Linked DNA regions of Homo sapiens. The protein of the gene in region 1 purifies or fractionates together with the protein of each later gene. This does not show direct contact. Each region holds a gene or a part of one and is shown in the gene's direction. Other genes may lie near its edges.

Evidence for each region. Proteins that work in one complex are often made in the same cells at the same time.
Region 2: the proteins of ANXA11 (region 1) and NIT2 fractionate together in Homo sapiens (co-fractionation; one large-scale study listed by BioGRID). This does not show direct contact.
Region 3: the proteins of ANXA11 (region 1) and C11orf54 fractionate together in Homo sapiens (co-fractionation; one large-scale study listed by BioGRID). This does not show direct contact.
Region 4: the proteins of ANXA11 (region 1) and OAT purify together in Homo sapiens (affinity purification with mass spectrometry; one large-scale study listed by BioGRID and IntAct). This does not show direct contact.

What each region holds. Positions count from the first base shown.
Region 1 is NC_000010.11:80,160,538-80,164,037, reverse strand, and holds part of ANXA11 (annexin A11), read left to right. Parts: intron 1-424; coding exon 425-504; intron 505-632; coding exon 633-689; intron 690-2,009; coding exon 2,010-2,103; intron 2,104-3,500. UniProt on the Homo sapiens protein: Binds specifically to calcyclin in a calcium-dependent manner. Required for midbody formation and completion of the terminal phase of cytokinesis.
Region 2 is NC_000003.12:100,333,423-100,337,556, forward strand, and holds the start of NIT2 (omega-amidase NIT2), read left to right. Parts: upstream 1-1,334; 5' UTR 1,335-1,369; coding exon 1,370-1,376; intron 1,377-4,134. UniProt on the Homo sapiens protein: Has omega-amidase activity. The role of omega-amidase is to remove potentially toxic intermediates by converting 2-oxoglutaramate and 2-oxosuccinamate to biologically useful 2-oxoglutarate and oxaloacetate, respectively.
Region 3 is NC_000011.10:93,744,672-93,748,171, forward strand, and holds part of C11orf54 (ester hydrolase C11orf54), read left to right. Parts: exon of another isoform or gene 1-1,809; intron 1,810-2,625; 5' UTR 2,626-2,722; coding exon 2,723-2,777; intron 2,778-3,500. UniProt on the Homo sapiens protein: Exhibits ester hydrolase activity on the substrate p-nitrophenyl acetate, in vitro. Regulates DNA damage and repair by regulating HIF1A degradation via chaperone-mediated autophagy (CMA).
Region 4 is NC_000010.11:124,399,364-124,401,923, reverse strand, and holds part of OAT (ornithine aminotransferase, mitochondrial isoform 1 precursor), read left to right. Parts: intron 1-84; coding exon 85-198; intron 199-939; coding exon 940-1,084; intron 1,085-2,560. UniProt on the Homo sapiens protein: Catalyzes the reversible interconversion of L-ornithine and 2-oxoglutarate to L-glutamate semialdehyde and L-glutamate.

The sequences.
Region 1 (3,500 bases):
CTGCCCTCTGCCCTCTGCCCTCTGCAGATCCCTGTGCTCTTGGGGCTGTGGCCTCATTCTCTCCTAGGGCCTTTTACTCCTTCCTGGCCTTCTTATCAACCCATCTTCTGCCACCCCCAATACTTTGGGCTTTGACCCAAGACCCAGCCCTTCCTTCTGTTTATACATGGTGCAAATGACTAATGTAAGGGAGAGGCAGGGAAAACCTGGATGTGGTTTGGGCCAAGGCTGACTAGAGGCCAGGTCAGCCTGGAGGTCACAGGCTTGTATATCCCTGGAGGGCCATATGGGCTATTTGTTCTCTTGAGCCCGAGCCAAGACCTCCAGCCTTTTTCTCCCCAGTACCCACTTTTGATAGTGTTTTGCAATGGGCAGCTCCATAAAGAGAGCTACAGGATGGACCTTCCTTGCTTCTCCCTTTCAGAATTCAAAAAGACCCTGGAAGAGGCCATTCGAAGCGACACATCAGGGCACTTCCAGCGGCTCCTCATCTCTCTCTCTCAGGTACTTTTCCCACGACAGGGCTCGGGGCCCCCAAGCCATGGAAGTCAAAGAGATGGGATCCCCGCAATGAGGAAAGGGAAAATAAATGGGGAAGGAGTGGGCATGACCATACACCTGCTTCCTTTCAGGGAAACCGTGATGAAAGCACAAACGTGGACATGTCACTCGCCCAGAGAGATGCCCAGGTGAGTGTGATGGCCAAGCCCCTGGACTTCCTAAAGCAGGGATGCACCCCGCTTTCTTGCTTCCTGAGAGAGGTACCCTAGGGTGGAAAGAACAATAGATAAGCAGTGGGTTGCAGATGCTGTGAGTTTCAGACGCGCTGAACTGTTCAACTGTATGACCTAGAACAGGTAATCTGACCTCCAGGGCTTCAGCTTCCCCACCTATAGGAGGGAACATGTGAGATAATTAGTATTTCGATAGTTGATAGATCATGGTTTTGGACGTGGGATTTTGTGTGACAGCGTACTTTCCCCATGTTTAGTTGCACATAGCATTATGTTTGCAAAGGGGCAAAATTTGCACTTGCTTATTAAGTTTTTGAGGATTTGAGCCTAGAAACCAGCTGCCACATTAGTTGAGCACCCTTAGAATTCTGTCGTTGTCCCTCTTGTGAGTTGCAGACAAAAGGGGAAAAGTCCAAGCAAAGTCCAGGCATCTGAGCTACTCTCTCGAAAAGTTTGGGTTTCCCACTAATGAATTTCAACCGTAGTATTATGGCAGGGCAGAGCCATTACTTCCTGGTGGGGTGGAGTTGGCCATACCTCTCTGTCTCCCTTCACTGCTCTTGTCATCCACGGCAGGGCATTCACCAGGAGCTGCCAGTGGTCTAAATTATCTCTACCATCTGCGGGATTGGAATGAGACCTCAAGGAATGCCCCCTTGTTAGGGCTGGAGGAGAGCTACTCCTCTGGTCTGGTCCTTTTGCTGGTCCTCCTTTTCCGGAGGAGGAAACTGAGGCTCAAAAAGGTTGAGCACTGTTCCCAACTGAAAGCTAGAAGCAGAGCCCGGACAAGGGCCTATACTCCTGGCTCGGTCTTCTGTGCCCAGTCAGCACTTGCCTCTGCCCTGGTCTCAGACCTGCTGCTCCTGCAGGGTCTGCCTTATTCAGTGTCTCTCTGGCTGGTAACATCCATTCCCATTCTGGGAGTCAGGGCTGGACACGCCTGGGGCTCAGGGCTCTGGCTTTTGCTCCAGCGAGAGTTTTGCATGCCACTTTTAGCGGGGCAAAAATTGTCTCATGCTCTGCCTTCTCAGTCCAGAGCTGCTTTGGCCTCATCTTGACCTGTGGGATCTCAGCCCCTGATTGCTGCTTTCTGCTCTTTTTCAGGGCTGCTACCTGAGGCCTAGCAGGCACTTTAGAGGCCATCTAGTTCAGAGGTTGCAAATTGGCAAATACTTTAGGCTCAAACCTTCAGAAGTTTACCAGGCTCTCCTGGGTGACCTGGGCCTGGGGTCTGGGTGTGGCCTGTGCCACATGTGCGTCTTCCTCTCTCTCCAGGAGCTGTATGCGGCCGGGGAGAACCGCCTGGGAACAGACGAGTCCAAGTTCAATGCGGTTCTGTGCTCCCGGAGCCGGGCCCACCTGGTAGCAGGTAAGGCAGGCTGGGGTCCCTCAGAGGCCAGTTAGATGAGGGCAGTCAGGGGATTGTGGGGAAACAAAGCTATGGGAACACTTGGTCGTTCCTCCCTGCGTGGGGCTTTCGCCTCCTCAAAAGAGCCCCCTGGTGGGAATTTAAAAGACACTGTCAGAGGGTTTCCTGAGTTCTGGCAAACATCCAGTTCTGGAGGTTCTACCGGTGTAGAAACCTGGTGTCTTTGTACGTGGGAATGTGGAACGTCAGAGTTGGGAGGGTCCTTCGGGAGCACCCAATCCAGTGTTTTCCAAAGCCTGGCATAAGAAACAGTCATAACAATAAAACTGGGTGCCATTCATTTACTCATTCATTCAACAGATGTAAATCGCGCTCCCGCATGGGTCAGTCTGTCAGGTGGTGGAGCAGGTGTGGGGCCACGGTGGGGGGCAGGGCACTGCAGAGTGTGTTCCATGGGCTGCACTTTCTCATTTGGGGAGACAGACAGTAAACAACAATGAAATAAAATCTGTATCAGATGGGAAATCCTGTAGAGGAAAATCAAGCTGGAAACAGGTAGGGAGTGATGGTAGGGTCCACCGGGAGGTGCTTGGGCCAGTCCCCACTGAGGTCGTGACATTTGATTTAAAAACCTAAAGGGAGATGCAGGGGCAGAGGCCTGCCTGGGGCTCCCAGCACGACTGAGAACAGTGAAGGGGGACCATGTGGAGCAGGTGGAGTGAGCAAGAGGAGTGGGAGGTGAGGGCAGAGAGGGGAGAGGGCCCTGCTGATGACTTCCCGGAGCTGGGTATTTATCCTGAGCAAAAGAGGAAGCCAGTGGAGGGCCCTGAGCAGAGGAGGCTGTGCAGAATCCCTGGCTGTGGTGCCGAGAATGGAGTGAAGGGTGCAAGGCCAAGCAGCGAAGCCTGTCGGGAGGCTGCTGCAGGGACCCGGGGAGGAATGGTGGTAATAGGGGCTTGTGGTGAGGAGGTGTCAGGTTCCGGCCATGTTTGCTGATGAATTGGACACGTGACGTGTGGGAGAGAGAGGGTTCGAGGATTATACAGGGTTTCTTTAGGCCAAGCAGTGGGAGAATGGCCCTCAACTGAGACAGGGGGACTGTAGGTGGAGCTGGCTTTAGGTGCCTGTAGGGTGGAGCTGCAGGGAGGCTGCTGGGTTGCTGAGTGTGGAGGTCAGGAGAGGTCTGGCCTGGTTGTGGAAGGTAAGGGAGCTATGGGTAGTTGAAGTTATCTGAGGCTCTGGGACTGCAGGAGGTCCCCTCAGGAGGGAGACTGTGGGGAGCCCACCGGTGTGAGGAGACTAAGAAGGAGCAGCTAGGGAGGGAGGAGGACGCAGAGGAAGGGGGTCCTGGAGGCCAGTGTGAGGTGGCAGGCAAGGACTGAGGATGGTGACCACAC
Region 2 (4,134 bases), on another chromosome or scaffold:
GTACCATGAACAGCTGTGTCCTCCTCCTAGATTTAATAATTAACATTTTGCCATATTTGCTTTATCTTATGTGTTTTCTTTTTGCTGACGATTTTCAAGTCAAACATTCTGATGGTTCATCCCTAATACTTCCTCATTTTCTAAGAGTAAAGAATTGTCACAAGCACAACACTATAGCACACAAAATAATTCAGAAAAGCATCAAATATCTCGTTCATATTTAAATCTCCCTAGTTGCCCCCAAAATGTTTTTATAGTGTTCTTTTACAAACCAAGATCTGTTTCAGTATAAACTATTCTGGGGCATTCCAAAAGGTGGTTAAGTTTTGGATTTTTGTTCCACAAGTCTGACAAGGCACAAAAACACAAAACACGAAAATTAAAAAGCAATCTAATAAATAAAAATGCAAAAATCATAGTCTATAGGCTGGGCGCAGCAGCTCACGCCTATAATTCCAGCACTTTGGGAGGCTAAGGCAGTAGGGTCTTGAGCTCAGGAGTTTGAGACCAGCCTGGGCAAAATAGCAAGGCCCCACCTCTATTAAAAGTAAAAAACTTAAAAAAAAAAAAAAAAGAAAGAAAGAAAGAAAAAGAAAAAAGGAAAAGAAATAGCTAGGTGTGGTGGTGTGTGCCTGTAGTCCCAGCTACTTGGGAGGCTGAGGACGGAGGATCGCTTGAGCCGGGAGGTTGAGGCTGCAATGGGCTGAGACTGCTGCACTGCACTCCTGACTGGATGACAGAGTGAGACCCTGTCTAAAACAAACAAACAAAAAAGGATATTAGCAAAGAGATGACAATGTATTCGAGGACTGACTTGTTGAGGGCATGGCGTTGAACCCTCAGCATCTTTCCCGTTGGCCTAGCAGCCTTGTAGTCAGATTTTACAGACGTCTCGCGTGCCTAAACCAACCAGGGTCATTCCGTCCCCGTCACAGAGACTTGTTCAAATAGCTCAAGCCCATCAGCATACGGTGTTAACCTGGCCACAGAGGTGATTCAACCAGCTAGAAGTTCAGTCCTTTTGCGGAGAATCAGCAAACGCTACAAATCAGGGCTTTCCTCCCTGAAAAGTCTGGTTGTTAAGACATTCACCAGCACACCACCTCGACTTAGGCCGTTCCCTTTTGCCCTTTGCCTTTCGAGGCATGCTTTTTCCGGACTGTGTTGCAATTAACCATTTCTCGTTGGTCCGTCCTGGTGTTACAGGCGCACTGGAATGAACGCAGACCCTTCTCTCCTCCCGGCCGGGGCCAGGAGGAGGGGTGGGGCGGGGCCTCTGACGCGGTCCCCGCCCCACCGTAGCGACGCCGCGGTCCGCCGGATCTCCAGCGCTCAGTCCGCGCCGCAGGTGGTGCTTGTCTGCAGAGTCATGACCTGTAAGTGGCGCGGCCGCGCGCTGCAGCTCGAGTTCGGGCCGCGGGGGAGGCTTTGGAGCGGCGCCGGCGGTGGCTCGGCCGGCTCAGCCCCTCCGCCCCGCGTCCCCGCCGTGCGCGGCCTTCCCTGAGGCGGGCGTCCGCGTGGGTCCGGGATCGCGTGGCCGGGCGGCCGGGCGCACTCCCGGGATTCCAGGCTTCCGGGGTGGCGGGCGAGGCCCAGAAAGCACCAGGCCACCCGGCCGCGCCGGCACCCGCCGCGTCCTGCTTGACAGAGGCTGATGGACGTGTATTTCTCCACGGTGTGGGCCGCGGTGGTAGGATCCAACTCCCTTGGGTGTTTTCAAGTTGCGTGACCTCCTCCAGCCCCGCCCTGCACAAAGGTGCCCAGGCGGTTCTTCGTCTCCCCACTCACTTTCCAGCTCCAGATTTTGACTTGGATTCTTGCTGTGTCACTTACTTTGTTCAGTGACTTTGTGCAGCTTTCCCCCTGCAAGTCCCCTGTTTCTTTATTTGTAAAATGATGTTAATGATACCTCACACAATGATGTTAATGTGTGAAGGACCTGGCACATTGCTTTAAATGTTATTCCTTTGTTGTTTCCTTCGCTCACAGTATTTTATTCTTTTTTTCCGCCCCTTGGTAAGGTCTTCGTTGTTAGATTATGATGAATATTAGGGCAGCCTTAAAAGTCTTCACTTTACAGATGAGATGGAGTGACGGGCGTCTCCTCCTCAGCATGAGGAACTGCCCAGTGGCGGGGTTTCCCTGCTGCAGCATGTCTGTAGAGTGGGTCATTTGCAGAATGATAGGCAGTCCTAAGCTTAGTTGAGGACCCCGCCCTTGTGGGTGAGATGTGTAGGAGAGGAAGCCATCAGCGTAGCCATGGTGAGCTTTATCTTTCCCACCCTCGGAAGCACAGACATGGCCCGGCACGTGGCTCACGCCTGTAATCCCAACAGTTTGGGAAGCTGAGGCACGAGGATCGCTTGAGTTCACGAGTCAAGAGTTGGAGACCAGCCTGGGCAACATGGCGACACCTTGTCTGTACTAAAAAATACAAAATTAGCCCGGTGTGGTGGCACGCCCCTTTAGTCCCAAACTACTTGGGAAGCTGAGGAGGGAGAATGGCTTAACGCTGGGAAATGGAGGGGAGACGTTTAGTGGATTTATCTGCTGTTCTGATAACAGCTCAAAATATCTGTTTGCCCCAGAATAATCCCAGCTTTTATTTCCTGTTTTAGTTTCCCTTCAGATTCTATAACTATTTAGCAGGCTGCCTTCAGGGTTAAATTTAGTGCTTCTCACTATATTTAGGATAGATCAAGGAATGGGACATCTGAGTTTTCCTTTTAGTTAACCCTGAGCCAAACAGGCCTTCATCAGAGGCCAGGGTTTGTCATTGTTGCCTTTTCTGGAGACATTTGCGTTGTTACAGGAAACACCCAAAAGAGATAGCTCTCTAATGGTAGGATTTTCAGACTCTGGAGCAGAGGTGGGATGGGAAGTTCGGGCAGGCCATTACTAATTGAAGGGGTGGGTTGCCCCTCCACACCTGTGGGTGTTTCTCGTTAGGTGGAACGAGAGACTTGGAAAAGAAAAAGACACAAACAAAGTATAGAGAAAGAAGTAGGGGGGCCCAGGGGACCAGCGTTCGGCATACGGAGGATCCCGTCGGCCTCTGAGTTCCCTTAGTATTTATGATCATTCTTGGGTGTTTCTCGGAGAGGGGGATGTGGCAGGGTCATAGGATAATAGTGGAGAGAAGGTCAGCAGATAAACACGTGAACAAAGGTCTCTGCATCATGAACAAGGTAAAGAATTAAGTGCTGTGCTTTAGATATGCATACACATAAACATCTCAATGTCTTAAAGAGCAGTATTGCTGCCCGCCTGTCCCCCTTCCAGCCCTAAGGCGGTTTTCCCTATCTTAGTAGATGGGACATAGAATCGGGTTTTATACCGAGACATTCCGTTGCCCAGGGACGGGCAGGAGACAGATGCCTGCCTTCCTCTTGTCTCAACTGCAAAGAGGCGTTCCTTCCTCTTGCACTAATCCTCCTCAGCACAGACCCTTTACGGGTGTCGGGCTGGGGGACGGTCAGGTCTTTCCCTTCCCACGAGGCCATATTTCAGACTATCACATGGGGAGAAACCTTGGAGAATACCTGGCTTTCCTAGGCAGAGGTCCCTGCGGCCTTCCGCAGTGTTTGTGTCCCTGGGTACTTGAGATTAGGGAGTGGTGATGACTCTTAAGGAGCATGCTGCCTTCATGCATCTGTAACAAAGCACATCTTGCACAGCCCTTAATCCATTTAACCCTGAGTGGACACAGCACATGTTTCAGAGAGCTCGGGGTTGGGAGTAAGGTTATAGTTTAACAGCATCTCAAGGCAGAAGAATTTTTCGTAGTACAGAACAAAATGGAGTCTCCTATGTCTACTTCTTTCTACACAGACACAGTAATAATCTGATCGCTCTTTCTTTTCCCTACACTAATAATTCCTGAAGTTTTGCAGAGCTTCATAGATTATAATGTGCTTTGGATCCTTTACTGCTGCGTCCCACCAGACCATAAGCAGGAACTATGTATCCATCAGGGTCCAGACAGGACATGGAAACAACACTAGTAACTCGAACAAGGAAAATTATTTATTTATTTATTTATTTTTTTGGAGACTGAGTCTCACTCTGTCGTCCAGGCTGGAGTGCAGTGGCGCGATCTTGGCTCACTGTAACCTCCAACTCCCAGGTTCAACT
Region 3 (3,500 bases), on another chromosome or scaffold:
AATTATAAATTATTCAACCCAAAACTGAAGGGGGCCTGCCCCTCCACACCTGTGGGTATTTCTCGTCAAGTGGGAAGAGAGACTGAGAAAATAAATAAGACACAAAGTATAGAGAAAGAACAGTGGGCCCAGAGGACGGGCACACTCAGTATGCGAGGACCTGCACCGGCACTGGTATCTGAGTTCCCTCAGTATTTATTGATTACTTTTCACTATCTCGGCAAGGGAACTGCGGTGGGAGAACAGGGTGATGGTGGGGAGAAGGTCAGCAGGAAAACATGTGAGTAAAGAAATCTGCGTCATAAATAAGTTCAAGGGAAGGTACTGTGCCCAGATGTGTAAGTAGGCTAGATTCATGTTTCTCTTTACCCAAACATCTCAGTGTAGCAAAGAGTAACAGAGCAGTATTGCTGCCAGCATATCTCCCCTCCAGCCACAGGGTGGTTTTCTCCTATCTCAGAATAGAACGAATAGTCGGCTTTACACGGAGACATTCTGTTCCCAGGGATATGCGGGAAACAGAGGCCTTCCTCTTTTACTAATCCTTCTCAGCACAGACCCTTTATGGGTGTCAGGCTGGGGGACGGTTAGGTCTTTCCCTTCCCACGAGGCCATATCTCAGGCTGTCTCAGTGGGGGGAATTCTTGGACAATACCCACGCTTTCTTGGGCAGAGGTCCCTGCAGCTTTCTGCAGTGCATCATGTCCCTGGTTAATAGAGAATGGAGAATGGCGATGACTTTTACCAAGCATACAGTCTGCAAACATATTGTTAACAAGGCACATCCTGCACAGCCCTAAATCCCTTAAACCTTGATTCAATACAGCACATGTTTCTGTAAGCACAGGGTTGGGGCTAAAGTTACAGATTAACAGCATCTCAAAGCAAAACAATTTTTCTTTGTGCAGATCAAAACGGAGTTTCTTTTGTCTTCCTTTTCCACATAGACACAGTAACAGTCTGAGCTCTCTTTTCCCCACACAAAACTATGTTTAAAATAATTTAAGTATGATTATATAAGATTTGGGGGCCGGGTGCAGTGGCTCACGCCTGTAATCCTAGCACTTTGGGAGGCCGAGGCAAGTGGATTGCTTGAGCTCAGGAGTTTGAGACCAACCTGGGCAACATGGTGAAACCCCGTCTCTACTAAAATACAAAAAATTAGCCGGGCATGATGGCACATGCCTGTAATCCCAGCTACTGGGGAGGATGAGACAGGAGAATTTCTTGAACCTGGGAGGCGGAGGTTGCAGTGAGCCGAGATCATGCCATTGCACTCCAGCCTGGGTGACACAGCGAGACTCCGTCTCAAAAATTTGGGACCGTTAATAAACAGTTATATATATTTGGGAGATTAGATTACATGTATTAAATCAAGAACAATAAAAGCTGGTATTTGATAAAGTACTAAAGTAAATATAACATCCTAAATGTTTGCAATAGAATGATTATAGAGGATATGTTGTTGGAAAGTACCAGAACTAGAAACCCAGTTTCTAAGCAACCTGTGAATCTTTGGAAAATTAGAAAAAAAAATTTGGAAGAATATTTCAAATGGCTGAAGATCACCGTTCCACTTGCTAAATAGGCATGTTAAGGGCAGAGGCCACTCAGATTAATGAAGTGTTCTATTAACAGTTTTAACGAGAACTCCTGCAGTACTCTTAGAAACACCCTTAAGAGTCTTGTCTGTGTTCCCTGTTGTGATTGGCTTGGAGTAGGATACCTGTCTACCTCATATTACTTATATTTTTCCCTGTCTTCATTTTATCTCCCTCTGGTTGCATACTTCATCACTGAACACTTAAGGTAAGATACTAATCTCTGTGTATGTGCACTTATTTGTTACAAAGTATACTTGGCATATATTTTATTTTTTAGTTGCAATGATAGAAAAGCATATATTTAAATATCAAATTATAATTGGATAGATTATCAGAATTGAACATTAAATCTATTTACCAAGAAAGTATGTTTATTTGTAAATGAAAATAAAAATTTGAATTTCAAAGGCTAATCATTCCATAAAAGTTTCCATTTCTATTCGTAATTTAAATTTTATTTTGAAAAAGTGATAGTCTAAGGAACTCATTTAATTTTTGGCCTAAATGTGAAATATAGAATAAAAAACACACATATCTATTACAGAAATACTTGAGATCCTATATGTACTATACAAATCCTATATGTACTGTTATCTACAACCATTTGAACACTTATCCATAAACCCCTAATAAGTACCTTTTGCTTCAAGACCTATATTCCTTAGACCCACCATTAGAAAATTGGATGTTCACTCCAGCTATATGATATTTAAAAAAAAAATGAATCAGCTGGGAGCAGTGGCTCACACTTGTAATCCCAGCATTTTGGGAGGCAGAGGATGGCTTGAGGCCAGGAATTCAAGACCAGCCTGGGCAACATAGTAACACCTTGTTTCTATTAAAAAATTAGTTTTAAATTTTAAATTACAATAAAATAAAGTGTAAGTATTAAAAGGCCACTTGTCTATTTCTCACTTGGAATATTAAATGCTGGAAGCTGTGTTTGCCTGTTTATGAAGATAGAAACCTAAATGCCCTTTTGTTCTGTTTATATGTTTGAATGCTCAATGTTCATTTCCAGAACAGAAACTGTTCATACTTGGTGCGCTGTGGACTCTTGTGATAATTAACCAAGAGTAGCTCTATTTGTCCAACCTCACACCTAAAGAAGAAAGAAAATGGCTTGTGCTGAGTTTTCTTTTCATGTACCAAGTCTTGAAGAGCTTGCTGGAGGTAAAAACAATATTAACTTTGGATTTTTAAAAATTATCCCAAGAGAAAATTCTTTTAAAAAGATTCTAAGATCTATCTATATCTTACTACTTATGTATATCTATATCTTACTTATCAAAATAATACTTTTGGTACAGAATTCATTTTCCATTTCAGTATCTGTTCTGTCCCATTTTTATTGAGAAAGTCCAAATTCTGTCTAAAAAAACTAAAATTATAATTTATAAATTCTTTTTTCTTTCACTTATAGATTATTGATGATACCAACTTTACAAGATGTAAATGATTAGTAATCCAAGACTTAAGCATGTGTGATGCCCAAAGAGTCGCAAAATTTTGCTTTAACTTTTTTCACTTACATTATTCTTTAAATGTATACTCTACTGTTGTATGTTAATCATATTCCCAATATAATTCCCCCCCACCACTGATAATGACAGACTGCCAGTGAACTTGCTTTGATTTAAGGCAGTTTCCCAAGATAAATTAGGAGGGAAGATAGTCAAAAAAAGGAAAACAAAAACGAGTACAAAAATGAAGCCAGGAATAGTTGTTATCCAAAACTGTAAAGTCTGTCAGAATACTAACCTTTATTTAACAACCTCTAGGTTCTGTTCTAATGGTAACTATAGAACCTTCGCTTGTTTCTCAAAATGTGATGTTCTGGTAGTTCATTTGTCATCCTGATAAGATTGAAGTTAAGAAATAGACTCATTTTTGCTT
Region 4 (2,560 bases), about 44 Mb from region 1:
GGTGACAGCGAGACTCTGGGGAAAAGGATGCTTAGTAGAATGCTTAGTGCTGAGAAATGACATGGTGAATTGACTGTCTTTCAGGTGTCTGCAGTGCTGTGTGATGATGACATCATGCTGACCATTAAGCCAGGGGAGCATGGGTCCACATACGGTGGCAATCCACTAGGCTGCCGAGTGGCCATCGCAGCCCTTGAGGTAAAGACTGATACAGCCACACAGTGTCTATTCTTTAAAGCAATGTTGAAGTGATTTTTAATTTGGGCCCACTGGTATAATAAAAAATTCAATAAGAATGCCAAATATTAGAAAACATGAAGTATAGAGGAAAAATTTTAGGAACAAGATATTCTCAAAAAGTAATTTAAACTTGGCCTAGTAGACTGGATTTCCTCCGTGGGCTTCCTGAGTTCACAGTCACCTGGCGCTTTGAGTTCTTCGGCCCTGGCTGGCCCTCATAGAACTCTCAACTGTGACCCACCTACCAGACCCGTCTTTTTGCTTAGCAAGCAAGTCTTCTTTCAAGTGTGGATTTATAATGTTTTCAGACTGATTTTTTAAGTGCCTGCTGAAGGTATACAATTATTATGTAATCTCTGAGGACAGATCTTTGTGAGGGGGGAAGAAACTATTGCAGTTTAGGAATTACATTTCGTCCATTGATGTATTCAATTAATGACAGTATGTGAGTTGCATTAAATAAACTTTAATCCTTATTTTGCCATGAATGATTGGCAATAGATTTGTGATGAAAGCAAGACTCTGAGCTAGTGTATGTTTAATTAGAAACTAATACAGGCTTTGAAAAATAGCAATGAAAGTTAAGTTCCTCTGGTATTTTATCTAGTCATGTTTTTCCTGTGTTTACAGTCCCCGTTGTCCTCCAAAAAACAAAAAAAGGACAGTCTTAATATTTGTATAATTTTTCTTTAAACGTAGGTTTTAGAAGAAGAAAACCTTGCTGAAAATGCAGACAAATTGGGCATTATCTTGAGAAATGAACTCATGAAGCTACCTTCTGATGTTGTAACTGCCGTAAGAGGAAAAGGATTATTAAACGCTATTGTCATTAAAGAAACCAAAGGTATGGAGATAAAACATTTACTCAAGATAATTTTTTAAGGAAGACCTAAAATACACTTGGTATTTAATTTAATTAATTTATTTATTTTTCGAGACGGAGTCTTGCTCTGTCTCCTAGGCTGCAGTGCCGTGGCGCAATCTTGGCTCACTGCACTCTGCCTCCTGGGTTCAAGCAATTCTCTGCCTCAGCCTCCTGAGTAGCTGGGATTACAGGCGCCTGTCACCACGCCCAGCTAATCTTTATATTTTTAATAGAGATGGGGTTTCATAATGTTGGCCAGGCTGATCTCAAACTCCTGACCTCGTGATCCACCTGCGTTGGCCTCCCAAAGTGTTGGGATTATAGGCGTGAGCCCACCGCGCCCGGCCACACTTTTTTTTTTTTTTTTTTTTTAAGATGGAGTCTTGCTCTGTTGCCAGGCTGGAGTGCAATGGCGCCATTTTGGCTGACTGCAACTTCCGATGCCCCGGTTCAAGCGATTCTCCTGCCTCAGCCTCCCGAGTAGCTGGTATTACAGGCACGTGCCAACACGCCCAGCTAATTTTTGTATTTTTGGTAGAGATGGGGTTTCACCATGTTGGCCAGGGTGGTCTCGATCTCCTGACCTCGTGATCCGCCTGCCTCAGCCTCTGAAAGTGCTGAGATGACAGGCATGAGCCACTGCTCCTGGCCACACTTGGTATTTTAATTGGGTGTTGGGATGTTCTGTTTGAAACTGCTGACTGACATAATGACCAAACCTTTTAGACAGATTATTGTCTGATTTATAATTATATTAAGAGTATAAAAAATATAGCTCTTTTCTAAATGAAGGCACATTTAACCAATTTGACCCTTGTTCCTTTAAGACACTTATTTTTCTGCCTTAAATTAGTCATGCAGTATTTAGAGAGTTCAAGTTTTTTTGTTGGTGAGTCTGGACTTGAAAGTGTCCTCTTTGCTATCCTTCCCTCCCTCACTTTGATGCTTTGTGTCAGTAGAGGTTATAGGAGCAGCAGAAATAATGATATGAATGACAGTTATGGGGTCAATAATAAAAATAATGCTGGCTGTCACTTAATTGGGTGTTTGATGTTTTAGTACATCCTTTGTAACCCTTAGGTGTTCCTTGCTGGATTTTCTTGTGATAACTCTTCCTTTTAAAGCAACGATTCCAACCTCCCAACCTTGGCTGCACTTAAAGAATCACCTGAGGGGCCGGGCGCGGTGTCTTATGCCTGTAATCCCAGCACTTTGGGAGGCCGAGACGGGTGGATCACGAGGTTAGGAGATCGAGACCATCCTGGCTAACACAGTGAAACCCCATCTCTACTAAAAATACAAAAAAATAGCCAGGCGAGGTGGTGGGTGCCTGTAGTCCCAGCTACTCAGGAGGCTGAGGCAGGAGAATCGCTTGAACCTGGGAGGTGGAGCTTGCAGTGAGCTGAGATTGCGCCGCTGCACTCCAGCCTGGGCGGCAGAGTGAGACTCCGTCTC